Linked DNA regions of Homo sapiens. The protein of the gene in region 2 purifies or fractionates together with the protein of the main gene of each other region. This does not show direct contact. Each region holds a gene or a part of one and is shown on either strand. Other genes may lie near its edges. The genes, in order: ZNFX1, CXXC4, PUS7, RCVRN and TIA1.

What was found.
Region 1: the proteins of CXXC4 (region 2) and ZNFX1 purify together in Homo sapiens (affinity purification with mass spectrometry, with the first as the bait; one large-scale study listed by BioGRID). This does not show direct contact.
Region 3: the proteins of CXXC4 (region 2) and PUS7 purify together in Homo sapiens (affinity purification with mass spectrometry, with the first as the bait; one large-scale study listed by BioGRID). This does not show direct contact.
Region 4: the proteins of CXXC4 (region 2) and RCVRN purify together in Homo sapiens (affinity purification with mass spectrometry, with the first as the bait; one large-scale study listed by BioGRID). This does not show direct contact.
Region 5: the proteins of CXXC4 (region 2) and TIA1 purify together in Homo sapiens (affinity purification with mass spectrometry, with the first as the bait; one large-scale study listed by BioGRID). This does not show direct contact.

The regions. Positions count from the first base shown.
Region 1 is NC_000020.11:49,249,095-49,255,159, forward strand, and holds part of ZNFX1 (NFX1-type zinc finger-containing protein 1), read right to left. Parts: intron 5,556-6,065; coding exon 5,401-5,555; intron 4,718-5,400; coding exon 4,572-4,717; intron 3,737-4,571; coding exon 3,626-3,736; intron 2,529-3,625; coding exon 2,433-2,528; intron 618-2,432; coding exon 1-617.
Region 2 is NC_000004.12:104,473,298-104,479,362, forward strand, and holds part of CXXC4 (CXXC-type zinc finger protein 4), read right to left. Parts: intron 1-6,065.
Region 3 is NC_000007.14:105,514,214-105,520,278, reverse strand, and holds part of PUS7 (pseudouridylate synthase 7 homolog), read left to right. Parts: intron 1-6,065. UniProt on the Homo sapiens protein: Pseudouridylate synthase that catalyzes pseudouridylation of RNAs.
Region 4 is NC_000017.11:9,894,244-9,900,034, reverse strand, and holds the end of RCVRN (recoverin), read left to right. Parts: intron 1-1,830; coding exon 1,831-1,940; 3' UTR 1,941-3,715; downstream 3,716-5,791. UniProt on the Homo sapiens protein: Acts as a calcium sensor and regulates phototransduction of cone and rod photoreceptor cells. Modulates light sensitivity of cone photoreceptor in dark and dim conditions.
Region 5 is NC_000002.12:70,223,694-70,229,758, forward strand, and holds part of TIA1 (cytotoxic granule associated RNA binding protein TIA1), read right to left. Parts: intron 5,626-6,065; coding exon 5,571-5,625; intron 5,509-5,570; exon of another isoform or gene 5,399-5,508; coding exon 5,366-5,398; exon of another isoform or gene 4,770-5,365; coding exon of another isoform or gene 4,651-4,769; exon of another isoform or gene 4,130-4,650; coding exon 4,042-4,129; exon of another isoform or gene 1,701-4,041; coding exon of another isoform or gene 1,664-1,700; exon of another isoform or gene 1,035-1,663; coding exon of another isoform or gene 937-1,034; coding exon 861-936; coding exon of another isoform or gene 819-860; exon of another isoform or gene 731-818; intron 1-730. UniProt on the Homo sapiens protein: RNA-binding protein involved in the regulation of alternative pre-RNA splicing and mRNA translation by binding to uridine-rich (U-rich) RNA sequences.

The DNA.
Region 1 (6,065 bases), on a different chromosome or scaffold from region 2:
TCATAAGGGTGGCAGGCACGGGTGCAGACATGCCCACAGCCCAGGCGGAACTCGCAGGGCAGGCTGCAGCCTCCTTCGGGTACTTTTTGGAAGTCAGAAGCTTTGGATACTAAGGTGTGGGTTTCAGGGTGGTTCTGGCAGCAGAGCCGGAGCATGGGGCCTATTTGATTGTTCTCTCGAAGTGTATGAATGATCTTGCTCCACAGGGGCACCTTGGCCAGCATCTGCATGTTTCCGATGCAGTACATTCCCTTCTTGGCTCGGGACAAGGCCACACAGATGCGGTTGGATATCTGCAGAAAACCCACCTTGCCTTCTTGGTTGCTCCGCACTAGCGAGAGGAGGATGATGTCATTCTCTTCCCCTTGGTATTTGTCCACAACATGGACCCTGACGCCAGCAAATGTCTTGGCAGGCATCAGTTTGCGCAGGCAGAAGAGCTGCCCGGTATAGGTAGTGAGGATGGTGATCTGGGAAGGCAGGTATTCCTGGCACAGGAAGTACTTGCACAGCTCTACCACAAAGTGAGCCTCATGCTGGTTCTGATGGCTTTTGCCCTCTTGGATTTCCTGTTCAGGAAAGTTGTGTTCTACAAAGAAAAGGTTGGAAGACACCCCCTGACAGGGAAAAGAAGTGACATGTTAAAAGGTTCACTCATGGCACTTGTTTTTTTCTTCCTCTCTTGACATGCACTGGCCACTTACTCTGCTCCAGAGAGAGACCTTGGAAAGCTTTTTGTCCACTCAACATCACTATCTTTAGTTCTTTAGTTAGTCATTGTGTGCTTCATTTTGGGGCCACAGCAAGTTATGAAAATAAAAGATTATGTCTCTTTCAGTTTTCAAGATACTTGTTTGATGTTAATATTTAAAAAAGCTGGCTGGGTACAGTGGCTCACGTCTGTAATCCCAGCACTTTGAGAGGCCGAGGTGGGTGGATCACCTGAGGTCAGGAGTTTGAGACCAGCCTGGCCCACATGGTGAAACCCCGTCTCTACTAAAAATACAAAAATTAGCTGGGCGTGGTAGTGGGCGCCTATAATCCCAGCTATTCAGGAGGCTGAGATGGGAGAATAGTTTGAACCCAGGATGCAGAGATTGCAGTGAGCCGAGATCATGCCACTGCACTCCAGCCTGGGTGACAGACAGAGTGAGACTCCATCTCAAAAAAAATAGAAAATAAAACAGCCATCCACAATCCAACCATTATAGCTGAAAGAACAAGCAGTGCTGTGAGGAGGATGATGATAATGACAGAGCAGCTAACTTACTGAGCACTCCACTGTGCTGACTGCTTTATATACATTACCTCCTTCCATACAGTAATGGGATATGGCAGGAGCCATTATTCTTATTGTCCAGAAGAACCTGATACTCAGAATTTATTTATTTATTTTAAAAAAAGAGACAGTCTTGCTATGTGCCCCAGCCTGGTTTTGAACTCTTGGCCTCAGCTGACAATTTTTTTTTTTTGAGACAGAGTTCACTCTTGTTGCGTAGGCTGAAGTACAGTGGCACGGTCTTGTTGGCTCACCACAACCTCCACTTCCCAGGTTCAAGCGATCCTCTCGCCTCAGCCTCCCAAGTAGCTGGGATTACAGGCGCCCACCACCATGCCCAGTTAATTTTTGTATTTTTAGTAGAGACGGGGTTTCACCATGTTGGCCAGGCTAGTCTCCAACTCCTGACCTCAGGTGATCCACCCATCTTGGCCTCCGAAAGTGCTGAGATTATAGGCATGAGCCACCACACCCAGCCAGGCACATGCCACCGCACCCAGCTAATTTTTGTATTTTTAGTAGAGATGGGATTTCACCATGTTGGCCAGGATGGTCTTGATCCCTTGACCTTGTGATTCGCCCGCCTCGGCCTCACAAAGCTCTGGGATTACAGGCGTAAGCCACCGCGCCTGGCCAGAATTCTTATATAACTTGCTTAAGGTTACATGGCTAACAGGCAGAATTGGGATTAAAAAACCCTGGTCTGTATTTCAATTTTCTCCCAGTAACCAGCTTTTAAAAAGCTGGCTCTACTCCCTTCTGAAGGCTTTCTTTTTTTTTTTGACAGGGAGTCTCTCTCCGCTGCCCAGCCTGGAGTGCAGTAGCATGGCACGATCTCAGCTCACTGCAACCTCCACCTCCTGGGTTCAAGCAATTCTCCCACCTCAGCCTTCTGAGTAGCTGGGATTACAGGTGCTTGCCACCATGCTCAGCTAGTTTTTGTATTTTAGTAGAGACAGGGTTTCACCATGTTAGTTAGGCTGGTCTCGAACTCTGACCTCAAGTGATCTGCCCACCTCAGCTTCCCAAAGTGCTGGGATTACAGGTGTGAGCCACCGCGCCTGGCCGCTGAAAAGCTTTTTTATCTTGAGGAAATTATAGCCTTTTTAGGTTGCTGACACCATCCAAGAAAGATCGGGTAAGACAGACTCACCTTAATCTTCTCATACTTAAGAACAGATGGATGATTCTCCAGATCCTGGTAAATGTGGGGGGTCAAAAGGCGGGCAATTTCAGGGCACATACGGTGCTGAAAAAACACATGCATGTCATTAGAAACATGGGCAGAGCACACACGGACAATTTCTTTAAAGATAAGGTTGCTGTTAGAAAATTTAGGGAGGGCCAGTTGTGATGGCTTGTATCTGTAATCCCATCACTTTGGGAAGCCAAGGCAGGAGGATCACTTCAGGTCAGGATTTCAAGACCAGCCTGGCAACATAGTGAGCCCTCATCTCTATTTTTCTTTCTTTTTTTTTTTTTTTTGAGACGTGTCACCAAGGCTGGGGTGCAGTGGCGCAATCTCAGCTCATTGCAACCTCTGCCTCCCAGGTTCTAGTGATTCTCCTGCCTCAGCCTTCCAAAAGTAGCTGGGACTACAGGCATGAGGCACCACGCCTGGCTAATTTTTTGTATTTTTAGCAGAGACAGTGTTTCGCCATGTTGGCGAGGCTGGTCACGAGCTCCTGAACTCAAGGGATCCGCCCGCCTTGGCCTCCCAAAGTGCTAGGATTAAGGTGTGAGCCACCACACCTGGCCTCTATTTTTCTTTTCTTTTTTTTTTTTCTGAGACAGAATCTAGCTCTATTGCCAGGCTGGAGTACAGTGGCATGATCTCGGCTCACTGCAACCACCGCCTCCCAGGTTCAAGCAATTCTCCTGCCTCAGCCTCCTGAGTAGCTGGGATTACAGGTGCCCACCACCATGCCCGGCTAATTTTTGCATTTTTAGTAGAGACAGGCTTTCACCATGTTGGCCAGGCTGGTCTCGAACTCCTGACCTCAGGTGATCTGCCCACCTTGGCCTCCCAAAGTGCTGGGATTGCAGGTGTGAGCCACCGCACCTGGCCTCTATTTTTCTTAAAAAAAAAAAGGAAAGAAAATCTAGAGAGATAGAGATTATCATTTGAAAAAAATAAGGAGAAAGCATAACATAAACAGCTCCTTTGTCCAACAAAAACTCAACACGGTGATCTTGTGGTGTTTTAAAACAGAAAATGTAAGGTTGACAGAGTCATTTCAGTATTAAATTATTTTTATTTATATGAGACCTCTTTTGCTGGCAACTGGCAGCTTCCCAGGAGCTTTCTCCTGGGCATTTGGTAACAACAGAGGCCCAGCTTCTCACCTGGTAATTCAGACGGACAAAGGGAATGTTTACTTTCACTAGCCGTTCAAAAAGGGACACCTCAAGGTTGAAGTTCTTGGCCAGATCATACACGTTGGCACTGGGGCGCAGCTGAGAAGAGAAACATGGCTGAGGATTCTCTACTGATAAAGTCATTTAACCATCCATACTTCCATCCATCCAACCAACCATCAAATGTTTTTCAAGTGTTGACTATGTGCCAGGCACTATTCTACATACTCACAGTTTAAGGATTAATAATGACAAGGGTTAAGGATTAGTAGAACTAAAGGTGATATGACAGAGTGCCCCATGGTGGGTTTTTTCTAGCTAGGCCTCTGAACAGTGACATCTGAGTAGACACTAGCATGGCAGAAGTTGCCAGTTCTTCAGTCATTTGAAAAGCAAGATCCATAATGGGGAGCGGAAAGGACACAGTGGGACACCAAGAGCAAATGGGATGAAGTCAGAGAAATAAGCTGAAACCTGATCACATAAGCCTTTGTGGGCCACTTTAAGAAGCTTGATTTTTATGCAAGTGCAATGGGACACCACTGGAGGGTTTTCAGCTGGAAAGTGATATTATCTATCTACCTTTTTTTTAAAAAAATTCACTTTGGCTCCTTTATGTAGAGTGCATTAAAAGGTAGCAAAAATGGAAGCAGAGAGACTGAGGAGCATGCTATTACAATACAGTCCACTCAAGAGGCCATGGTGGACTAGGTAAATAGCAGAGGGAATGGATGAAATAAATGACGTTGCCACTAAAATATACCCCAAATCTAATAGCATCTGCTCTTAGACTGAACGTGGGAGGTGAAGACAAGAGGAATCACAAGAAGCTACTAATAAGCTTGAGGACTGTTGAAGCAGAGGCCAGGGTCTTCCTTTATGATCTCACCCCCACGGAGAGCCAGCCCATCTTCTAGGGGGACTCTCGTTTTACCTGCTGGTGGTCCCCAATCAAAATGAGGTGCTGGCAAGCTTTGCTCAATGTGGCAATGGTATGGGCCTCAAGGACTTCCGCAGCTTCTTCCACTATGACAATCCTCGGCTCCACCTTCTGTAGGATCTGGCGGTATTTGGCAGCACCTCAAGTGAGGAAAGAAGAGAAAGGCTCCTCTGAGCTGAGGCACAGGACCCACAGGGCCACTGGGCCTCTGGGAATCCACTTCTGTATCTTCCCTGAACCTGCATCAGCGACAGCTGGTCCTTATAGTGTTCTGGGTGGTCTCCAGAACATTAAAACTGTGTTGGTCACTGTTGGAGTTTCAAACCCAGCAGGAGAAAGTGAGTGAATTTCTTTTTTCTTTTTTTTTTTTTCTTTGAGACAGTCTCACTCTGTCACCCAGGCTGGAGTGCAGTGGTGCGATCTCAGCTGACTGCAACCTCCACCTCCCAGGTTCAAGTGATTCTTGTGCCCCAGCCTCCCGAGTAGCCAGGATTACAGGCACCCACCACTACACCCAGCTAATTTTTGTATTTTTAGTAGAGATGAGATTTCACCATGTTGGCCAGGCTGATTGCAAACTTATGACCTCAGGTGATCCACCTGCCTTGGCCTCCCAAAGTGTTGGGATTATAGGCGTGAGCCACTGCGCCTGGCGAAAGTGAGTGAATTTCACCAAGAGTTCTCAAAATATGGGTGCTTTCAGTAGCTTTTCATGGTATTTTCCTCTAACCTACCAAAGAAGCTCCTCTTTACCTGTCCTTAGATAATCTGGCACCAGAAGTGAACTTAGATGCAACAGGCAAATTTCTCCACAGTTTCTTACCTGTGGTTGTCATTCCTACAACCTGGGCATCTTTAAGAATGTGCAGGTCTTCCTGGAGTCTCAGCTCGGCCATTCTTTCTGCTGATGTGCGGTACTGGCGTTCATAGCTGAGGATCTTCCGGCGGGTGTCAGCCTGGTACAACTGTAGCCAGAGCCTGGAGAATGGGAAGAACCAAGGAAAGAAAGCCACATGCTCTTTGAGAAGGTGGAAGAACGCCCTTCAGTGTGCCCAGTGTATGAAGTGAACCTTGGACCCTTGGAGCATAGTGACAAACAGAGAGATACATTCAGGGACCTAAGAATCCAAAATGCCCAACAAAAAGATGTGCAGAGTAGTCAGGAGCTAAGGAAAGGGGTGAGATAAAGAACAAAGGTTAACTATGGGAAGAAAATAAGAGACTTTAAAAACTTTGGGAAGAATTCTCCCAGCTGCAGCATCCCTGCCTAATTTCCCTCCCCTCCTCTAATTCTCCATAGAGTATTTATTTTATTAGTAAAACTGATGATGTCACTAATCGCTGTAAAACTTTCCAACGGCTTTCTACTACTTTTTTTTTTTTTTTTTTAAAAGACGGAGTCTTGCTCTGTCACCCAGGCTGGAGTGCAATGGCGTGATCTTGGCTCACTACAACCTCCACCTCCGGGTTCAAGCGATTCTCCTGCCT
Region 2 (6,065 bases):
CAATGATATTCAATGAAGCATAACTACCCTATTGAATTGTAAACATACTATAAATGGTTTCTCCAAAGAAGTATCAAGCTAGCACCAAAGTATAAGCAATCATTTTAACAAAAAGCTTATAGTTACTATGAGGTTTTCTTGTTAGGTAAATGGTAGTTAAGCTTGAATTTTCTATGTACATTAACATCTAATAATTCCTCATGCCATATCCTTCCTTAAAATGTATTCTAATGATATACATAAAACAATCACATGAATATACAGTGAAGGTATGCAAGAAACAACAAGCTAAGAATACATTCTCCTGCAAAAGAAAGTTGACTTTATTCCTTAGACTAGCCCAACAAGCCTGTATAAATCGTAAGATGGCTGCTAAGGATAAATAAGTATATAAATTGATGTGTTGAATGTAAGTGCCAATATATTTACTAGGTAAACAAAAACACAAGAGCACATACATACACACACATTACTTGTAATGCATCTTAAAACATTAATAGCACTTGATTTTTGGATTTCAGAAAATAAACACAAAATTCTGCTAAAAACCCTCTAATAATTGAGGTTAGCTCTTATTTACTTTCTCACACGTGTTATTTGGTGGACATTGTCCTATTGTAATTATGTCATCTAATAATAAAAGTATTAATTGATTAGGATGTCAACTAGAAAACAATAAAATAAATATTTTGGAAAGCAAACATGCTTTTCGCTATCTGTACTAAAATAATTTTTTAAAAGACTGTCCTCATCACAAACACAATAAATTTCAAAATGACTGTGTTGAGAACAAATCATTGATAAATGACTATCTTCCTACTCCAAGTCTGCATATAGGTATACAGAACAAAATCTGCCTGAGCAGCGCTTTCTAAAAGCACAAACAAAAAAGTTCACTATTCTCATGGAAATTGTACTGATCTTATTAACCTGTTATAAGATGGTTTCATTGGTTTTCTCCTTTCCAGCTCACTATGCATACCTGAATCTCTATCATTTGATTTAATTGGTGAGAAAAACTTCTTTACTACTTTCTAAAATTAACTTTTGGATAAATGTAATAATTATACACATTGATTACATTAATTTAATCATTATTAAGAAGCTACATGACGTAATAAGAAATAGAACATGCCCATTCTAATATTCATGCTTTATACACACACAAAAGCAATAAATGAAAACTTAAAAGTTTATACCAGATGCTAACTTACTGGCTGATGCCAACTAAGAATAAATTTTATATAAGTATGCACACTTATATAAATGTAGTCACTTCTAACGAGATAAGTTAGATCCAAGCATATTCATGCAATTATAGATCTATGGTTACAGATTCACATACGAAAAATAAACATGTGCATATATATTCATATATATTCACATTTATGTGTATATGTATGACACAGAGATGCCAACTTACTCTCAGATGCCAACTGGAAACAAGATTATAAATATATACTTATGTAATCTTGTATCTTGATAAACATATATGTTTACGAAGATAAACAGCAAAAATATATGGAGTACATTTTTTAAATGAGATGAAGTCCTTATGTCTTAGATATACTTTTAAATCTCTTTTCCAATTCTCGCTCTTCCTGTGCCCCTTTCAGCTACTCAATTTTATTTGCAACATTTAGAAAAAGCAAGCTTATAAAATGCCACTTAGTGTCAAAGGTCATTGTTGTGGGAAAAAAAGATAATCACTTCTCAATACCTGTTAGCAGTACAAATTAATTAAACAATGCAAACACGAGAAAAGCAGAAAAAAGGTTTTCTACACTTACTTGATATTACTGTGCATCGTGATTTTACTATGCATACATTGAGACCAGTATGCATCCCCAGATGTAAGAATATGGACAGTTTATTGCAGGAGAAGTGAGAAGGTAAGCAGGGAAGCCTCTTTTAAAAATTATTTCTTCCTTATATTAAGATCCTTGAGGTCAAGAAGCCTAAAAATGATTAGTTGGGAAATCACCAAATAAAATATGTGAGAAAAATTAGGAAAACTACTGGTGCAGTAATTAGAAAATAATCAAGGCACACACCAGAAATTTGTATTTCAGGATTTTAAAAGTGTCAAAACTCTTTAGGGTCCTGTAGCCTACCCAAAATAGATGTATATCTAATCTCCTGCCCAATTTTCATCAGGAACAATGGAAATGTACTTTAGGACTGATTGAGTTTGTTTCAGCCAAGCTGGGTGAAGCAACAATGTTTTAATAGATAAAATATTGAGTTAAACTACAGGTTTCTAACTAAGTTTGTACTAATTTGAGGACACATATTTTTTCATTCTGTCAACTAATGAGGTTATCCTTGTAAGAAGACTTCTTTTTAAATGGTGCGGGGGCTCAGCACACCAATGTGCGGGATTAAATACCCTGACCAGCCACCTTTGGGTTGTATAAATTCAAAGTCCCAGCTAGGGATTCACACTCTTGATGAGATTACAGTGACTTTCTGGATCTCAGTGATGCTTGCAGGGGATCTTTATCCTGAGTGACAGGAAAGCCAGATTCCCCTGAAGAGAAGGGGGTGGGGAGGTAAAGAATAGAATTGAGTTGATCGGCATTGTTTAAGGCAGCCTTCACTGTTCATGCAGGTGCAAACGCTGACAAACAGCCGTCTTGCTCCCAGGAGGCCTGTGGAGAAACCTGCAGCCCCAGTTCTCTTTCTGGTACTGCTGTAAAGCACAGTGTTCCAGAGAATTCACCCCTACACAAACCAGGTACAACACTATCTTCAAGTCTAAAGGAGTCTTCTGTTTCTCCCTAAATTACATTAAAACTAAGGGAATTTCCTTGAATAAAAGAATGATAAAACCTAAGTCCAAGTACATTTTATATTTACTTTTTAAAAAAATTTAAAATTTAATAATGTTCCTGGCAGATATATATATATTTCAGTTTGATTTTCATTAAATCTGCAGTGATGAAATAATTAAACAACCTAAAATAATAAAGAATATGAAAAGCTTTCACCTTAAGGATTTTAGCATGTTTCTCTTCTCATACCTGCGAAGCAGTCACACGGAAAGTGGTATCTTCAGGTGAAGAATGCATCTACATATTCTTGTTAGAAATACGTCAAGTCTAATAAAACATCAGCTCCTAAAAGCTGAAAATGGGGCATCTCTAACTCTGTACATATGAGGATATGTGGATTGGCCATTCATATCTAAGTACAGTGTGTAAAATGTAGCAATATTTACAAAACTGCACTTAAAACTTTTAATAATATTAGACCTGAGGTTTCAAAGAGGAAATTAATGAAAACTTTTGATGCTGAAATTCACCTTAAATACAATTTTAAATTGAGATCATGATTATGATACTAGAAATGTCTATAACTAAAGTTAAACCTATCTTTCCAATATTTATTCATATACTTTCGAATCTAAAAATTTCAGTGACTCACCTAGGCCTTCAAAATTCTACTGTGAAACAAAATGGCTCTCATGATTTCCAACTGAAGGTCACTATTTGGGGATACCATTATTTCTATACTAATCAAAAATAATTTCCTGTTTTCCCATTTATTATTAAAGAAACAAAAGTCATGAAATCATTTTATGATTCCCATATAATCGTGAAGCATGCTTTCTTCCCAACCAAACTTAAGGCAATTTCAGGCTGTAGTTAGCCAATACCACCTACTGTATAACCTTTTGAAATATTGTTTTCACTATGAGGAGTCCCACTGTAAGTTTCTTAGACTCCTCGGCATCTAAGGCCTTGATACTGGAAACCTCCACTGCATTCAAGTCTATCATTTCACACTAGAATGCAAAGATCTTAATGAATCACTGAAAATTTGCAGTAGAAAGTAAGTGAATAAATATGACAAAACATAATAATGGACCCCACTGTTTGCCTTCAGTTATTCAATTATATAGATTTTGTTTGTGGCTACATATAAAACTTTCAAACTTTAGAAATTTCCGGATTAACAAATGCAAGCAGGTTGCTGATGGTGAAAAAAACTACCTTTTTTTTCTGATTTGATTCACGAAGAATGCTAAAACATTGTTATATAGGTTCTTGATTATGTTACTAACAAAATTTCAAAATCTACTTGGAGAAATTGGAAACTGTATTACGTATACAGTATTGTGAATGTGAACAAACTGATTGACACAAATTAATACATAGTAATATGAATCTTTGAATAATTAATAATTATGATATAAAATAATACCTAGCAAAGGTGAACACCTCCCCCACAAGTTTTTAGCAGAAAGATTTTTCTATATTCCTTTTGTAAATGATAGGTTTTAGAAATCATAGTCTAGTAACTATAATAGAGTTATTAGAAAACACTAGTAAAGTATAGGCTAATAATATAAGAGAACTATTAATGATTATCACACAGTCCAATAATTTATTGCTATTATAAACAAAACATTTTATTAATAATATCTAAATTTAAAAATATTTGGAGTAATATAAGTATATACTTGTTTCCATTTTTTAAATTACACCTCACTTTTTTCTTCTGCTCTGTTGTAATAAATCCATATTATGTCTGTAATGTATAGCAGATTAATTTTTCTAATAATCCAGATTCATTTATTACATAACTGTATGTCTTTGGTATAATCACACCTTATTTTGGTCTTTATCCAAATATAAATTAAAAACAACTTTCAACATCATCCACTAACTGGAATATTAGACCCCTATTTAAAAAGGGGAAAGCACCAAATAACTAGGTAATTTTTATGACATAACTTTTGGAGGCTTTAAATATGATTTTAAGAAACATTCCATATTTTGGTTTCCAAATTGACATTTGTGACCAAGATTTCTCCGATTAATGATGGAGAACTAGAGATGGCCTTTTCATTGATAATTGATTCTCCCTTGGCTGTTGCTCCTGTTGCTCTCTTTGCCTTGCACTCCTACACTGCAACCACCACAGTTACCATCACCACTGTGACAGCATGATTTTAGACTGTGACGGTGTGACTTTAGAAGGTAAACCTAGCTAACTTCTGCAAATGGAAAGATGACTTTATACATTATGTTGTAAAGGCACTAAGTCAAGTCCATATGGTGATAAAGCCTGTCATGAAAACAGCTGTCCAAAGGAGAATGTGTGTACACGGTGGGAGTGGGTTGGTGGGAGGTAAAATGACAGATTAACACCACGATTCACACTGGTCCAGAAGTGACCAAAAAATGTACCCATTTTGGCCATAGGTCTAATATAACTACTTTAGTTAAGCAAGTCTCTTGATAATGCTATGCGTATATAATTATATTTCAGTTAAATTTCGTAAAAATACTTCAAACCACACCATTCTAACAAATAAGTAAATTTAGTGTATTATAAGTGGGTATTTTAGTGGTTAAAATGTTCTTACCCATATAAAAATAAAACATAGTACGGTGGTACCATGGTAAGCAGAAAGAGGAAAATCTTTCAATAATTCACAAATTTAAAAGGTATTTATCAAAGCAATGTTATATACTTAACCTTATGTGTAAGAGAGAATGTGAAAGAAAATTAGAAGTAAAATTAAGATTTAAAAAGTAAAAATTGGGTTAATAAAATCAATACTATACTTTCAAGAATGATTGAAATTATTTTATTTATATAGTCATATGTTCATATTTCATTTGCATGTATATATATGTATAAATATATATGGTTATAGACTCTAAATAAATATGTGTGTGTATATATATATGAATATATATGTGTGTATAAAAGTTCAACAATTCAACTTCTTCTCAAGTAATTCCCATTGAATGCAACAGCATAGCATTAGGTGAGTTCATTGGTAATTAGCCATTGAAAAACAATGAGCAGCCTTTCCCAGACCAAGTGGTTGGACAATTTTGAAGTTCTGGTTAATTTTAAAGCAGTCAGTGAAACCGTATTAACTTTATCCCTTTTTTATTGAAGAGAAACATAAATATTCATATAAAATACTAGAAAATGAGAAGTCACTTAAAAAATCTTAAGAGGTGATGTTTAACCTGACTATCAAAACTGTGATTTGAACACCCTCTAATTTATACGAAAATAAAGTAGTTACATTTAGCCTCCAT
Region 3 (6,065 bases), on a different chromosome or scaffold from region 2:
ACTGTGTTAGCCAGGATGGTCTCGATTTCCTGACCTCATGATCTGCCCGCCTCTGCCTCCCAAAGTGCTGGGATTACAGGCGTGAGCCACCGCGCCCCGCCTAATTTTTGTATTTTTAGTAGAGACGGGGTTTCACCATGTTGGCCAGGCTGGTCTTGAACTTCAGACTTCAGGTGATCCACCCGCCTCAGCCTTCCGAAGTGCTGGGATTACAGGCGTGTGCCATCACACCCGGCCTTGAACGTGTCTTTTGATAGAGGCAGGGGCATGCATGTACTGTATTAATGAAGCAGCGTTTTTCCTTACCTAGGAGAGAGAGAGAACAATCCAGCTGGTCATACTGTCGACTAAGTTTGCTCCGGTTTCAGGTCCTTTACACGTGCTGTTCGGGCTGCCTGGAGCTCTCCTCACACACATCTTTTCCTGTCTGGTTCTTCCTTGTCTTTGCTCAGAAGTCTCCTCCTTAGACGAGGCATCACTGAAGAACACCCCTCTTACTCTCAGCCCCTTACCCTGTTTTAATTCTTTGGAGCTCGCATGTCCTGAGATTTATTTTGTTCTCAGATATATTCTCAAATACATTGTAAGCTACATGAGGACAGGAAATGGTATTACCCTTTTCTTCCAGTACCTACAACAATGCCAGACACATAGGACACTTGCTCAGTAAATATTTGCAGAATGAATGACCCTCATAGACTTAATGATTTTGCATATTAGAATGCAGTGTGTCTGCCGGGCCTGGTGACATCATGCCTGTAATCCCAGCACTCTGGGAGGCCGAGGCAGGCAGCTCGTTTGAGGTCAGGTCAGTAGTTTGAGACCATCCTGGCCAACATGGCGAAACCCCCTCTCTACTAAAAATACAAAAATTAGCTGGATGTGGTAATTTTAGCCCATGCCTGTAATCCCAGCTACTCGGGAGGCTGAGGTAGGAGAATCGCCGGAACGCTGGAAGTGGAGATTGCGGTGAGCCGAGACTGCACCACTGCACTCCAGCCTGGGCAACAGAGGAAAACTCCATCTCCAAAAAAAAAAAAATTAGTGTGTTCTCTGTGCTCTGGCCCTAAAGAAAATGCTCACTATTGTGAGAGCTATAGAGATTACTGATAATTTGCAGGGGATGGAGGAAAGATGTATTTACAAAGTGAAAGTTGTGGATAGTTTTGAAATATAATATGATAGAATTAAGACTAATGGCTGTTTTTGTAGGCTGGGCGCGGTGGCTCAGGCCTGTAATCCCAGCCCTTTGGGAGACCGAGGCGGGCGAATCATGAGGTCAGGAGTTCGAGACAATCTTGGATAACACGGTGAAAGCCCATCTCTATTAAAAATACAAAAAATTAGCCTGGTGTTGTGGCGGGCGCCTGTAATCCCAGCTACTCAGGAGGCTGAGGCAGGAGAATCTCGTGTACCCGGGAGGCAGAGGTTGCAGTGAGCCGAGATTGCGCCACTGCACTCCAGCCTGGGCAATAGAGTGAGACTCCGTCTCAAAAAATATACAAAATAAAATAAAAAATAATTCAAAAAAAGACTAATGGCTGTTTTTCTGATGTTTATTTTGGAGGAATTAATTAATAAGGGACTGTTTGGCCTGGGCGGTGGTGCACACCTGTAATCCCAGTTGAGGCAGGGCAGATCACTTGAGCTCAGGAGTTTGAGACTAGTGGGCAACATGGCAAAACCCTGTCTCTACAAAAAATACAAAAATTAACTGGGCATGGTGGCACATGCCTGTAGTCCCAGTTACTCGGGTGGCTGAAGTGGGAGGATCGCTTGAGCTGGGAGGTCGAGGCTGCATTGAACTGAGATCACGCCACTGCACTCCAGCCTGGGTGACAGAGTGAGACACTGTCTCAAAAAATAAATAAATAAACAAACAAGAGACTGTTGTTAGTGTTATATTAAAATTTTGAAAATGCTAAACTTAATTTTTGTTATAGGTGTAAAGGATTTTATTTTTTTTTTGAGACAGGGTCTTTCTGTCACCCAGGCTGAAGTGTAGTGGCACCATCACGGCTTACTGCAGCCTCAACGTCCTGGGCGCAGTGGATCTTCCCACCTCAGCCTCACAAGTAGCTGGGACTACAGGTGCATGCCACCTTGCCCGGCTTATTTTTATTTATTTTTTGAGACAGAGTCTCCCTCTGTCACCCAGGCTGGAGTGCAGTGGCGCAATCTCGGCTCACTGCGACTTCTGTCTCCCCAGTTCAAGCGATTCTCCTGTCTCAGCCTCCTGAGTAGCTGGGATTACAGGGCCACACCACCATGCATGGCTAATTTTTGGATTTTTAGTAGAAATGGGGTTTCGCCATGCTGGCCAGGCTGATTTCGAACTTTTGACCTTGTGATCTGCCCACCTCGGACTCCGAAAGTGCTGGGATTACAGGCATGAGACACCACACCCAGCTGCCTGGCTAATTTTTTAATTTTTTGCAGAGACATGGTCCCACTATGTTGTCCATGCTGGTCTCAAACTCCTGGTCTCAAGCCATCTACCTGCCTGCATTTTTTCAGAGATGAAGTCTCCCTCTGTTGCCCAGACTGGAGTGCAGTGGTGTGATCATAACTTACTGCAGCCTTAAACTGGTCTCACACAATCCTCCTGCCTCAGCCGCCCTGTTAGCTGGGACTACATGCACACATGCCCAGCTAAGAGTACTTCTTAAAGCTTAGTTGGTGAATCTAGTATTTTAATGAAAAGGGTTTTAAAATACTGTTAAAATTATAATATTTCTATTCTCAGTTGTCTCATTTGGAGTGCAGAGGAAACAAAAAACATTATTTTAGCATTCCCTCCAAAGAAATGTGAAGGATTGGCCAGGCGTGGTGGCTCATGCCTGTGATCCCAGCACTTTGGGAGGCCGAGGCAGGCAGATCACCTGAGGTCAGGAGTTCAAGACCAGCCTGGCCAACATGGTGAAAACCCGTCTCTACTAAAAATACAAAAATTAGCCAGGCGTGTTGGCGCATGCCTGTATGTACTCTCAGCTACTTGGGAGGCTGAGGCGGGAGGATCACTTGAACCCAGGAGGTGGAGGTTGCAGTGAGCAGAGATCACACCACTGTACTCCAGCCTGGGTAACAGGGTAAGACTCCATCGCCAAAAAAAGAAATGTGAAGGATTTTAAGTTTTGGGGAAAGTATCAGAGGAGTTCATTCTCTTCCTGGTTTAACATCAGGCTTCTGGTCTATGGGGTTTTACTTGACAATTAAGATACCATCATTACTATCATGGATAGTGTATTTGTGCAGCATGTTTTCTTAAAATTTTTTCTTTTAAATATGTCAAAAAATGCATAAAACTGCCCTCTCCCCCCTTTTCACATCTAGTAACTTTATATCTTCATTCAAGATAGAATGCTTGGGCTTTCCTGACTGCAAAACTGATTTCCTTGGGCCTCTCACCTTGGGGTAGTCAGGCTTGTTTTCTCTTTGCAATTTAATTCTCTCAGGCCTCTTCTATGTTCATAAGATCACCTCTCTCTCCTCTCCCCAACCCTCAATTTAAAAATTATATTCCAGTCCGGGCGCACTGGCTCACGCCTGTAATCCCAGGAACTTTGGGAGGTCGAGGTGGATGGATCACCTGAGATCAGGAGTTCGAGACCAGCCTGACCAACATGGTGAAACTCCGTCTCTACTAAAAACACAAAAATTAGCTGGGCGTGGTAGCGGGCGTCTGTAATTCCAGCTACTCAGGAAGCTGAGGCAGGAGAATCACTTGAACCCGGGAGGTGGAGGTTGCTGTGAGCCGAGATCAGCCAAGATCACGCCATTGCACTCCAGCCTGGGCAACAAGAGCAAAACTCCGTCTCAAAAAAAAAAAAATTCCATTTCAGCTTCCCTTTCACGTAGTTCCTGCTTGCGAAAATGACACTAGTTTGAGTTTTGCCTTTCCTAGTCCAGAGCTCTGAACAGTTCTTCTAGTAAATATGCTCTCCGCTTTTAGGCCTATAGGACAGAACTTAGAAAAATATATATTAAGTGATTTAAAAATCATTGGTACTATATATACTTTAATAATTAATTTGGGCCGGGTGCGGTGGCTCATGCCTGTAATCCCAGCACTTTGGGAGGCCAATGTGGGTGGATCACTTGAGGCCAGGAGTTTCAGACCAGCCTGGCCAACCTGGTAAAACCTGGTATCTACTAAAAATACTAAAATTAGGCCAGGCGTGGTGGCTCACGCCTGTAATCCCAGCACTTTACAAGTTTGAGGTGGGCGGATCACCAGGTCAGGAGTTTGAGACCAGCCTGACCAACATGGTGAAACCCCGTCTCTAGTAAAAATACAAAAAATTAGCTGGGCTTGGTGGCACGCGCCTGTAATCCCAGCTACTCAGGAGGCTGAGGCAGGAGAATCGTTTGAACCCAGGAAGCAGAGGTTGCAGTGAGCCAAGAACATGCCACTGCACTCCAGCCTGGGCAACAGAGTGAGACTCTGTCTCAAAATAAATAAATAAATAAATAAATAAATAAATAAAATAAAATAAAATACAAAACTTAGTCGGGCCCAGCTACTCAGGAGGCTGAGGCGTGAGAATTGCTTGAACTCAGGAGTTGGAGGTTGCAGTGAGCCGAGATTGTGCCACTGCACTCCAGCCTGGGTGACAGCAAGACTCTGTGTCAAAAAAAAATTAATTTGTCTATGATAGGGCCATTGACTTAAACAATGAAAAATGTAATTTCATTTGAAATTTAAAAGTGAGTTTAGTTTATTCTTGTCTTTTCAGTTAGATATATCAAGAAAAAGAGATCAGACAAATGTCCACAAATATCAAGAAAAAGACTGGCAACCTAAAGGCCTGTTGTCAACCTAAAATAATCAAAAACGTCAGAATCTAGTACAAAGAGAAATTATTCAAGTGCAAAGTTTGAGGATGTCCCACCTGGAAACACCAGTTCTAAAAAAATGGAGTCAAAGTTCTGAAGTAGGGAAGTTTAGGTTTTATATAGGCAGAGACAGGAGTTTTTAGCAGGATTACAACATTTTTCGTACAGGGTTTTCACATAGTTACAGCAATTTGATTGGTTATAGGCAGTGTTTCTTTTTGGGGAGAGTACATTGGGGAAGGTGTAATAGTTATGGGTTTTCTGTCATACGGTTTAAGCATAAGCAGGACACCAAAGGGAAAGTTCCTCTCTAACAAGGGTCATTAATTAAGAATTTTTAGTCATTGTAGGCCAGGCGCGGTGGCTCACGCCTGTAATCCCAGCACTTTGGGAGGCCAAGGCGGGCAGATCACGAGGTCAGGAGATCGAGACCATCCTGGCTGACACAGTGTAACCCAGTCTCAACTAAAAATACAAAAAATTAGCTAGGCGTGGTGGCGGGCGCCTGTAGTCCCAGCTACTCGGGAGGAGGCTGAGGCAGGAGAATGGCGTGAGCCCAGGAGGCGGAGCTTGCAGTGAGCCGAGATTGCGCCACTGCTCTCCAGCCTGGGGCACAAAGCGAGACTCCGTCTCAAAAAAAAAAAAATGAGAGAGAATTTTTAGTTATTATATGGAACAGGAAAAATGAAAGTAAGCTAATCTGTAATCTGAAAAACAAATTGTAACCATATGTGACTCAGATCATAGTCACATCTCTCTCAAGGCTTAAAAAGTGTTTTGGGGATTCCAACAGCTTTTAGATTCTGTTTTCTTTTCTTTTCTTTTCTTTTCTTTTTTTTGAGATGGAGTCTCGCTCTGTCACCCAGGCTGGAGTACAGTGGCGCGATCTCGGCTCACTGCAAGCTCGGCCTCCCGGGTTCACGCCATTCTCCTGCCTCAGCCTCCTGAGTAGCTGGGACTACAGGCGCCCGTCACCACGCCCAGCTAATTGTTTGTATTTTTAGTAGAGATGGGGTTTCACTGTGTTGGACAGGATGGTCTCGGTCTCTTGACCTTGTGATCCACCTGCCTTGGCCTCCCAAAGTGCTGGGATTACAGGCATGAGCCACTGTGCCCAGCCAGCTTTTTTTCTTTTTTTAAACTCCTCCAGACATAACAACAATACAGTTCAGCTATGTAAATCATCCATAATAACTATTTTTTTTTTTTTTTGAGACGGAGTCTTGCTC
Region 4 (5,791 bases), on a different chromosome or scaffold from region 2:
CAGCCATGAAGACTTTAAAAATCCAGTGTGTCTCAACTGATAAAACACAGCATGGCCCAAACACATCCAAGGGTCCTGTATTAACCCCTTTGGTGACCTCTGGAGGCAGTCTTCTGCCAAGGTTCAAGAAGAAAAAGCTGAGCAGGATGCTAAATAAGGGCAGAGAGAGATGACCCTGCTCCTCCTAATCTGCCAACAAATGATGAAATAAGAGAAGCATGAAGGTCATTGGGGTAGGAGGAACATAGGACACAGAATTTAAGGAGGCGCTCGTTCTCAGGGGTCAACAATGCACTCACAGGACCTGAAAGTGAGCGCCTCCTTAAATTCGCGCCTTGGTACTTTACCCACCTTTCCCTCATCGGCCCGGATTGGCCCCTCACCTTTGAGCACTCTCTCCTCCTTGCACAGACACTGGCTACCAAGATGCCTTCTTTTGGCACTTTGCCCCACTGGCTCCTTAACTGGCTTCGCGACCTCCCTCTGGGTCCGTTCATGTGTCGAGCCCTGTGTTCTGCTTTTTGCTCATCTGAAAACCTCCCTGGTGAACATCCCGGGAGGGGATGACGTCAGAAGCCCCGAGGTCGACGTGTTACTCCTGTTCGTGATGTGTTGTACGTGTTTCCACGCGGCCCATCTGGAGACAATGCCTCAGGGCAGAGTCAGGCTTTGATGGTGGGAGTTTCAAGCTCTCTGTGAGCTCTCTGTGGGGTGGCTGGGATGTTAAAACCCAAATTTTACCACCCAGACTTGCGGAGGAAGCCATCCTGGATCCTAACCCAGAAGGGATTAAAGGTATCCAAAAGGCCCAGAGCATAAGTCAGAAATCACATTCAGTTCAGCAAAGCTTTGTTGAGCACCGACTCTGTGCTAGGCACTGTGAACATACAACAGAAAGGAGCATCTGTCTCATGCTAGAGGTATTTCTGCGTGTGACTGCCTTCCCCGCCAGGTCAACAGTTTCCCAGGGAGGGACTTCATCTCACTCTCTTCTATTGTACACCCCGCCTCCGCTCCCTGTGGTGGCCTTGGCTCCAAGCACAGTGGCATCTGGGCTCAGGACCATGCATTTAACTGGACTGATCTGAATACAGTTAGCCACCTGATTAAAAACACCGGAAAACCAGGTGTGGGCGCAACAAGGCTGTCTCTCAGTCCTGATCCCAAATAAGGAGGCAGATGAGACTGGGGGACGCAGGGATGGATGCATAGGAAGGGATCATGGCGGAGTTGTCAGCCAGGAATCATGGGGCTGCCTGTGTGCTGCAGGTGCCAAAGAGACCTCTCTGCAAGCCACACTCCCCCTGGCATGATCTCATTGGGCCCTTCACTTCTCACTCCTATTTCTGGAGGGATGTTGTTCCCTGCTTCTCAGCTGAGACTCTGGGCCTGACATCCAGATTGTTTTGCTATGCTCAGACCCCCAGAAGCTCCTCCTGAACTTGATCCTTGAAACTTGAGCTACTATAGAAAATAGAATAACAATTAATAGTTATTAATTATTGAAGTATTTAATAACCAGCAAGGCAGGGGCACCGGCCAATCGGAAGAGACACATAGCACAAGACTGGCATCTTGGGGGCCCCCCCAGTGCCAGTCATTCACCGCTCTTTGCTGGTCTGCAGGGAGCTCCAAGGGTCATGGGAAAGGAGGTGGGTATCTGGACTGGGGTGGGGGAATATTGAATACTCAGGGCCACTGAGTATTCAATATTCTTATAATAGATACATTCACACTGGGGATACTGGCTAGATGTCAGCCTCATCGCAGCTCACTTGGCTATCAATCCTGACTGTTTTATGTACGTATATATTTTTTCCCAATGCACAGATAAACTTACAGAGAAAGAATTCATTGAGGGGACACTGGCCAATAAGGAAATTCTGCGACTGATCCAGTTTGAGCCTCAAAAAGTGAAGGAAAAGATGAAGAACGCCTGATGCCAACTGTTCAGCTGTCCTCCCTCCACCTACCACTCACATGACACCCGTGAGCGCCTGTGCACACACACACACATGCACACACACGCGCGCGCACACACACACACACACATCCACCCCAGGGCCAAGAGAAAGGCCTGCACACAAGCCCACAGCACAGCTCCCTGCCAAACTGAAGCATCTGTAGTGACCCACTGGTTCCTTCTTCCTGGGTCTTCAGCATTCCCTCCCATCATGCCCGGTCCCACCCCTCCCTCTGTCCACCAGCCCATGGCCCTGTGCTAATCCCAGGATTAGGCCATAGGAGTCCTAAGTGTCACCCCGCTGTAAGCTCCTTTGTGGAGTGCTGGGTAAGCAGTTTCCAATAAACGCAAGCTGAGCTGGGCACGTGGCTGCTGGTCATCCTTCAACTGGAAAAGGAAATGATTTCTATCAGTCACACCTCAAAGACAAGGCTGTGTTGCGATGGCAGCCCTAGGCTGGGCTGCTTTGGTGCGGAATGAGTCTAATGCGGTCCTGCTGTCATGGAGCTCATGGTCCAGAGGGGACAATGAACCTGGAAGGAGCCATGACCAGTGGCCCAGGTTACCATGGAAACGTGCAGAGCACCAGGGGAGGACACAGTGGAAGGGGCTGACTTGTCAGGGGGGATCAGGGACCACATCCCTGACGAAGGGAGATTTAAATTCAGAACCACTGCACACGAGGCGGGGGACGGGGTCGGGGTGGGGAAGTCTCAAACAGAAGGCGGCCAACACAGAGCCGCTGAGGCATGAATGACCATCTCGAGTTCCAGGAGAAGGTCGGGGTGGCTGGAGGGTAGAAGGAGGAGGGAGAGCAAAGTGTGAGCTGAATCTAAAAGGTAGGCGGGGGCTGGACCACGCAAAGCCCTCCCTGCAGCCTGTGGTAAGCACTTGGGGGCTCACCATGGGGACAGCGGTGCCACTGTGGAGTTGGAAGTAGGAGGGGTTTATGTTTGTAAGAGAAGTCCCCAGCAGGCTAAAATAAGTCAGAGAGGAGCAACTGGGGGCTCCCTGGAGTCAGGGAGCCCGATGAATAAGCTTTTGCAGCCACTCAGATGGCCTGGGCCAGGGGAAAGGCAATGGGATGGAGAGGACCAGATCCAGTGAGGACACATTTAGGAGGTAGCATCCACCTGGCTGGCTGAGGGGGCAGGAGGAGAGAGGGCAGGAATGGCAGCCAGGCCTGTAGCTTGGGCAGTGGGTGAATAGCAATGCCATCTATGGAGATGAGAAATACAGAGAGTCTTTGGGGTTTCAGGGAACAATGATGAATTCAGCTTCAATATAGTATGAGGTGAAGGCAGAGCCATAGATGGCCCTAAAGCCCCTTGTTTTAGAGACAAGGAAAAGGAGTCCCAATGACAGGAAGCAGCTTGCCCAAGGGCAGCCAGCTGATGAGCAGAGGTCAGGCAAGGGCTACCCACCGGCCCCCAACTGCCTCCTCAAAGCTCCAGGGCCTGGGATACCCAGGAACTCCATCAGTGCATTCTCCAAGATCCCTGGATTTGTTGCTTTGAAGGCCCATTTATTCTCCAGCCTCAAGTTCCAAGATGAGGTCAGAAAAATGCATGGATACCCTGGATTCTTGACTGACCTGTCTGCAACCTCTTGAGGCTGAGGAGTCTCTAGTTGCTGGTATTGTGGTGATGCCTCCAGACCCCACTTTAGCCACAGAGATGACACAATCACCACTGCCAAAGAGCACTCCTCTGTGTGGAGAGCAAACGTGAGAATAAACACTTATGAACCGTGCACCATGCTAGACTCTGCCATCATTATTTCATTGATGGAGATGTTATTATCTGCACAATACAGATGAGGATACTGAGGGCAGGAAGTGTGAGTAGGAGTTGGTACTTAAACTGGAGTCCCTTTGATTACACCAGATTTCTCCAATAGTTTTGACCTGGACACAGCAGGATAGAGAACTCTAGGATTGCACAATGTCAGAGATGGAAAGGGGAAGGAGGCTACAAGGCATGAGTCCAGAGGTTCTGGGAGGAGAAGGATTATTACTAGAATCATCTACCCAAGGCATTCTCCCATGTAGACATAGTGGGCTATATAGAAGCCAGTTCAGTGGGAGATAAAAGACTCTGTGGGTCCAGTCCAGAGTGTTCTAGGAATATAACCAAAGGGCTCAATGCTCTTTCCACCACACTCCATGAATGAATCTGGTTGCTTCGAGGATGAGGCTGGGGGCTTTTCACTTCTCTCTGAGGTCAGTCTATCATTGTCACTTGAGTCTAAAAGGACAGACACTGCATAATTAGGTCCTTGCTGGTTTGTGGTTCAATGGGAGAGCCAAAGAGTGAAAACCTAATTAGTGCCTCTTTTTTTAGCTTAGGGTGGAAGGACCACTTGGGCTGAGATTCTCTACAGCTGTATGACACTTTGTGGAAAATAAAGCATGAAGTTCAACTTGGCCACAGGGAAGAGGAGGTGGAGATAGTGATGAGCTATGTCATCAAGACTCTTCCAGATGCAAAAGGTAGATGACCTGGCACAAATTATTGTGGCACAAATAGAAATTGCTTGGCTCTTATAGCTGAAATTCTAGGAGTAGGGCTAGCTTCAGGTATGGCTTAATCCAGGGGCTCCAACAATGTCCCAGAGTTCATTTCTCCCTCTCCTGGTTCTGGTTTCTGCTGTCACCACCATTCTCAGACAGGTTCTTCCCATGCTGGCAGGACGGTCACCAGCAGATCCAGGCTGCCTTCTTCATGGTTCCAATTTCAGCAGAAAAGAGAAAATGCTTTCTCTTAAGAGTCCCAGCCAAAGTGTCAGGATTGCATCTCACTGTCTCTGGTTAGTTATATGCCCATGCCTGACTCAATATCTGATGCCAGAAGGATGTACTGCTCTGCTTGGCCAGCAGATTTTTATGCCCATCCTTGAACTGAGGATAGAGTCAGGACAACTCAAGTTCCGTGGACTGACAGTAGGAGATGAGTGGTTTTTCCAAGAGGAAAATTGGGGTACTATAAGAAGGGCAGATTCTAAAAATAGATGTCTACTATAGAGACCTTGGGGAAGTCATTTCCTGTCTCTAGATCCCTGACTCCTCAAGTACATGTAAATTCAAGGGCAGAAATGGGTCTCATTAAGAGCAATAATCCAAACTGCCTGAGCTTCTGTTGCCACCTGCCCACATAAGATCCCAGCCCCTTGTGCAGTGTCTCTTGGGCATTTTTAGCATCTCCAGGAGGTGTCCCACACAGATTCACCCATAGATCCCTTAGTGCCAGGTGCCATTGCTGCCCTCAAGTACTACGTTCCTAATCACAGGCGAGGCCACAGTGCTCCTAATGTACCCAAGCTGTGTGCTGATCTGCTGAGGAGCCTTCTAGGTTAGAGTCTATCAGAACAGCCCCATGGGAAGTAGCATGTGTCACGGAAACAGCTTTTGTCATTGCCTCCTGGAAACAGCTCTCCTAGCTTTTGTCTGAAGCTTCTCTTCTCTCACCAGGCTCAGACTCTGACCATGGAGCCAAGTGGGGTCAGCCGCCGTACTGCTGTCCACTTCACTCCCATTTCTGCCCCTTAATGGTTATATAAACTCATCAGACAAGCCCAAAAATGTCTGTGTCTCAGGCTCTTAGGCTCCAGCTGGATGACCACTCCTTAAAAAATAAAACTGGGCCAGCCACACCTACATTGCCTGTCACTTAAGAGTTGTGAGAATCAGTTGAGTCTGTGCTTGTGGAAGAATTTGAGCTCTAAATGCTACATGGGAGAAAGACTCAGTTTATTTGGACTTCGGCAAGGTATTGTCAGTTTCCAGAGGAGGGTTCACCTCCTTCCCCTCTGCCTCAGTTCCAATGTTCT
Region 5 (6,065 bases), on a different chromosome or scaffold from region 2:
GTGAGCCACTGGGCTCGGCTGAATTTTCGGAATTCCCGGAAAAAAAAAAATTAAAAAAAAAGTAAAATAAAAAATATATATATTTTGTAGAGATAGGGTCCCACTATATTGCCAGTATTTATCTCAAACTTCTCAGCCTCCCAAAGTGCTGAGGTTATAGGCATAAACCACTGTGCCCGGGTAATATTTAATTTTTTAAAAAGTTCCTATCCATCACAGTATTTTTATTTATTTATTTATTTTTTGAGACAGGGTCTCACTCTGTCGCCCAGGCTGTGCTGTGGCATGATCTCGGCTCACTGCAACCTGTGCCTCCTGGGTTCAAGTGATCCTCCTGCCTCAGCTTCCCGAGTAGCTGGGACTACAGGCGCCTGCCACCACGCCCGGATAATTTTTGTATTTTTAGTAGAAACAGGGTTTCACCAGGTTGACCTGGCTGTTCTCAAAGTCCTGACCTCAGGTGATCCACCCGCCTCAGCCTCCCAAAGTGTTGGGATTACAGGTGTGAGCCACTGCGTCCGGCCTCCTCACAGTATTTTATTAGCTACTTTTAAACTACCATGGGAATATAAACTAGGGAGATAATGAATTAAATCCATAAATGAGATTTTCAACATCTACCTTTGGCTGATAATTTAAACAACTTTACTTTCTACATTCTGAAAACATCTTATCAGTACTCTGCATGCCTCAGGTGCCAATAAATGTTAAACAGACAAAACAGAAGAAATCTTCTAGTGAGGGTTTATTTTAATCATCAGTAAAATAAACAGCAGACGAAAAAAAGATTAGTAATTAAAACGGAGTGTTTCCATTCTTTACTCTTTAAGCATTATCCATGCACTTCTCACTGAGCTCACCCATTTGTTGAAAAAGGAGACAAAGCCATATCCCTTAGACTTTCCTGTTGCCATGTCTTTTACCACTCGGGCATCTCTGAAATCAGAAACAATCAGAAGTTTAGGTTTGCAAACTATCCTCTGGATATCAAATAAGAATTTCACACACAACTCATTCTCATGTTTCACCTTCATTAAAGTGAACCTTTAATGCAAATTCACCTTTTATTCTACAAAATTTATCATGTATTAGGAAATGAGGCTTAATTTTATAGACATGCAAATCAATAACTTAAGTATATATGTATATTTATATTGTACAGAAATTGCCTCTCTCTTCAAAAAACTTTTTAAACTTTTAAATATTAAGCATGGTGAAAGCAGCTACTCACATGAACTACTTAACCACTTATAAAGTTCACAGGACATTAGATGAATGGCTTTCTTTAACCATGCAATTTATAACTTATTTGACACTATATTCTACCTAATCATTAAAAAAAAATAGAAAACTGGAAACCAAAAGAATGAAAAAGTTGTATATTCCCTAAACTAATTAAACTATTTAATTTTTTCAGATCAATTTATACCCCCCTTTTTGTCTAAATTTTGAGAACTTGACATTTTCAGAAATGTTAAATCATTGAAGAAAAATACTAGACACACACAAGTTTTAAGCTAGACAAGAAAAGATTTTACACTGAATTTTATAATAGCATTCATATAAAATTGATTGGAACTACAAGATATAAAAGCAAAATTTTAAAAAGTCAGAAAGTAAAAAAGCACGCCAACATTTATCCACTGTGAACCGTAGCTTGTAGTTAGCCAGGGCAATTCTGTCCATTCTTCAGAGACACTCTGCAAAATAACCAGAGCCCTATTATTTGAGATTGAGTAAAAACCCAGCCATGATAGCTAAAACTCCATACCTCAAAAAATTGGACTCAAATTGTGCTTCACAGGCAATCTGCTTTTAAGTTAGTCAGGTATGTCACAATGCTTGCTCTCTCAGGACACATGAACAAAACAGGCACTTTTATAACAAAAACCCAAGTCAGAAAGCCATGCAATGTAATTTTCTATTAAAGTATACATAAGCATATTTTAGATCAATCTGAGTGATTTATTAAGTGTTCAGGGTCAAAATGACAAAGACGTGGTGGTGAAAAGGGAAAATTAATGTAAGTCAATGTTCAATATGCAAAAATACTTAATAAATTATCTGTATGGTACGCATGCATTTAATCTGGTAGCTGACTCTCTTCTACGCTGTAATTTGTTAGTCTACCCTAAACTCAAGGAATAGGAAGAGTTTATAGGCTGTATATAAGGGAAAATACCATATTTTTTATACTACATGCTTTTACAGACCACTGTTTATTACACATCTATAAATCAAGCACTGATATTTGCACTTTTTAGAGAATATCATGAGAACCCTTCAACATACAGTTATCAACTTATCTCCTTTAACAACAACAAAAAATCAGGAAAATATGCTACTGACTGCCAAATGATTCCTTTAAATGCAGGAAAGCTAATTCCTTATATAGCCTAAAACTCAAACATTATACATTATCTCAATTGAAAATCATAAAACTTAAAGGTCTTACCAAGAAAAAAAAAGTATACACCAATAATCATGGGACCATAAGAAAATCTACAGACTAAAAATATGACACAGAAATATATTTAAGAGAAAAAAATATAACCCACGATTTGTAAATCATGAAATTGCTAAAATCTGAAGGTCACTTAACTTAAACTCACCAACTGTTAAACAATCTTTGCCTAATTCCAAACTAAAATTCCCGTGTTTTCAAAAAAACTACCTCAATTAAAATCAAAGCATTTAATAAAATAGCTACTTAATCTGTTCACAATGTTAGAAAATTTTTTCTTCTTAAAGTTTCAGAAAATGTTAGTCTTGAAAAATATTCAACTCATTTATTTCTCTCTGAAAAGATTCTCTGAAGCAGCAGCAAAGATCTAGATCAGGCTTCTTTATCCTTTTATGGTTCTATGACTACTCTGACAATAGGATAAAATTTACAAAGATTTTCCACACCAAAATGAAAACACAAAATTGTGCATAGAGATTTAGAGCCCTTGAGAGGCCAAAGGCTAAGACTGTCTAAGTCCAGATATTCGAAAGCAAGCTAATTATTATTGAAACTCTAAGATATTATTAAGAAGGACAATCAAGAAATGAAAGCTGTACTTATTTTCCTGATCAGGTCTCACAAAGAAAAATGTCATCTGAAAGAAGTCCATTTATAAGCCCTAATTCTGTGACCACCTTTAAAGTTGGTAATTCCTTGGTCACATCCCCTAATCAAGGAACGATAACTCTTCAAACGAAAGCTCCTAAAATTCACCAATACTACTGGCATTTACTTTCCAGTCTCCTCATCTCATCTCTGCTGTTGGTCTGTTCAAACCAAACCACAGCTAGCACTTCCTTTTTACTATTCTTCTAGGTGGAAAAATAACAGAGCAAGCAGAAACCCTGAAGAAGTTTTCTAAGCTAATTACTCTACAGAAAGTACTGTAAACAACTTGTTATTCTTACTCTAATATGGCATGCTTTTCAAAATTTTAAAGTTCTTCTATGATGAATGCTATCTCAAGTAAGGTATTTATTCATAAGGGCCTAAAATGTATGACTAATAACAAGTGCAAGCAAGGCAGTGCTTCATAAAATATTATTAAGGCACTATTATTGTTAGCAGTTTTTTTAAAAGGGTGTAAATATCTAGAAAATAATATTCAATAACTGCTTTTTAAGTTGAATTGTTAAGGTTTCTTTTTGTTAAAATATATTAACACAAAATGCATGGTATCATAGAAGTACCCAACAGATCTAAATTCCTTAGTTACAGCACAATTTTACTAAAGATTGTCACCAAGCTAGCTTGATACCTATATAAGAAAGTAAAACATGTACAATGGCAAATTTGTCTCTTAAGAGCTATGCTAATTGAAAAAGGATTTTAAGATAATTGAAAACCAAAGGTTTATTCATCAATGGGAAAACAATCTTTTGCTGTTAACTTCTTGAATGATCTCTAAACAATGTAATACATTATATTCAAGTTATAAAATTAATGTACAAAATTCACAACAGAATTATTTTCAAGTTATGTCTACATATAATTGTTTCTAATTAAAAGGATTTTATTTATCTTCTGTTACTTACGATATTCTTCCAAATGGTGCAAAAGCAGCTTTTATATCTTCAGTTGTAATTTCTGGGCTGAGATCACCAACAAAGACATGGAAATGATCTTATAAGGGGAAGGAAGGGGAAGTGAAAAGAAAAATAGAACTTTAGAATTTAAAAAGTACTAAAATCTATCCAATAAAGTATTCTTAAAATGATTATGGCTTATGATAAAGTATAAATAAAACACTATCCTATATCTATACAAATCCTACCAATTTTAAACAATGAATCAAGGTAACAATATAGGAAAAATTCTCCTGAAACGACTGTGATACATCTAACTGTAAAGTGACATTTATATTTCTATTTACAGTCAATTATTACACTGGTCTAAGAAAATAAACTAATAACATACAAGTTTCAGTTCTGCAAAAAAATTTAATGACTTAGTTACCATTCTAATAATAATTATTTACTTTTATTCAGTTTACCACTATATTAAGGCTTTACAAATTAAAATAAAATAGTGGTACTGTGAATTATGTAGACTAGATTTGCCTCAGTTAACACAATTTACTGAAGCTAGCTACATGATATATACTTGGTTTAACCATATTTTGTGAAGAACAATCAAAGAAATACCTTGCATTGCAACAGTTTGATGTTAAAGTATTTGACAGTTTTCTCAAAAGCCAACAGTTTTGGTTGCCCAGACATTACACCATTCAGTTTATGTGAATCCATGTGCAAGTGAACTAAGACTGAAGGCAACAGAATGAAAACAGTAATCCCTTCACTTTATATCAGAACCATTAAAAAAGCATTGGAGAGAAATAACCAACCCATATCTGAAGTTTTTAAAAAAGACAATTATCAAAAAAAGAAACACTTTAAAAATGCAAAATTGTTGGACCAACACTTTAAAATGGACACATACATCAATTTGACAAAGCATATTTGGAAAGAAAAGTTACCCATATTTGACAGGCCTTAAACAACATTTTGGATTGCTCTTTGGGAAACAAAATTTGAGGAGCAACTCAAGCATTTGGAAGATCTGGGTATGAAGCCCAAATGGTGACCTCAAGAAAGGAGGGTATTTTGCCCCTTAGTTGGTGAAAGTAGTTCTAAGGCATCAGCTGCTACCAAACGGGTCAGAAAGCTTGAACTAGCACCAAAGTAGCGGACAAGTTATACTTGGTCAACACTGAGAAGGGAGAAAAGTATTGCTAGAGAGACAAATAGAAATAATATCTCCTCCCGCCCCCCTCCCCCAAATATCAAACAAAAAAACTTCAGGTGGTTAGTGAATACCCTTTCAAGAGATTTCATTTTATGTTTAAGAAGATACAATTACCTTGTGAACGCTGTGTGCTGACAACGGTACTACCTGATGACAAAGATTAGATTTGTTCTTAAATTTATTAACACAAACACATTCAATCATATCTTAGGATAACGATCAAAACATTACTGCAAACATGTATGATGTTTATAGGCTTTACAATAAAACTACTGGGTACAATAAAAACAAATGTTCAAAGAGCATAAAATATACTTACTGCTTGTATCTTTCTTTTGACTGCTAGGGGTTGTTGCCCAATTCACTTTGACTTCCTAAAAAAAAAAAATTTCTACATTTATACTTCACAAAAATAAAGCCCAAAATCACATTTGTATCTATAAACACATAGGAAGATATCTGTTTAAGATGAAACACTGAAGGAGATACCAGCTCTGGTCAAGTTTCAACACTTAATCTTCTGACCTACATTTAGGCAAATAATGTTGACAAATCCTAATCTTTATGTGTCTGTTATCATTCAATTAACCTTTCCTACCTAAAGTACCCATATTATTTTTTTTCCTTTCATTCTTTTCCATTAGCATCCAAGCTTGAGTAATTCAGCAAATATTTTGTTATTTACCATGTACAATCCACCATGGAAAATACTAACATAGGCTGCTGGCTGACGTCTGTAATCTCAGCACTTTCGGAGGCCAAGACAGGCGGATCACCTGAGGTCAGGAGTTCAAGACCAGCCTGGCCATCAGAG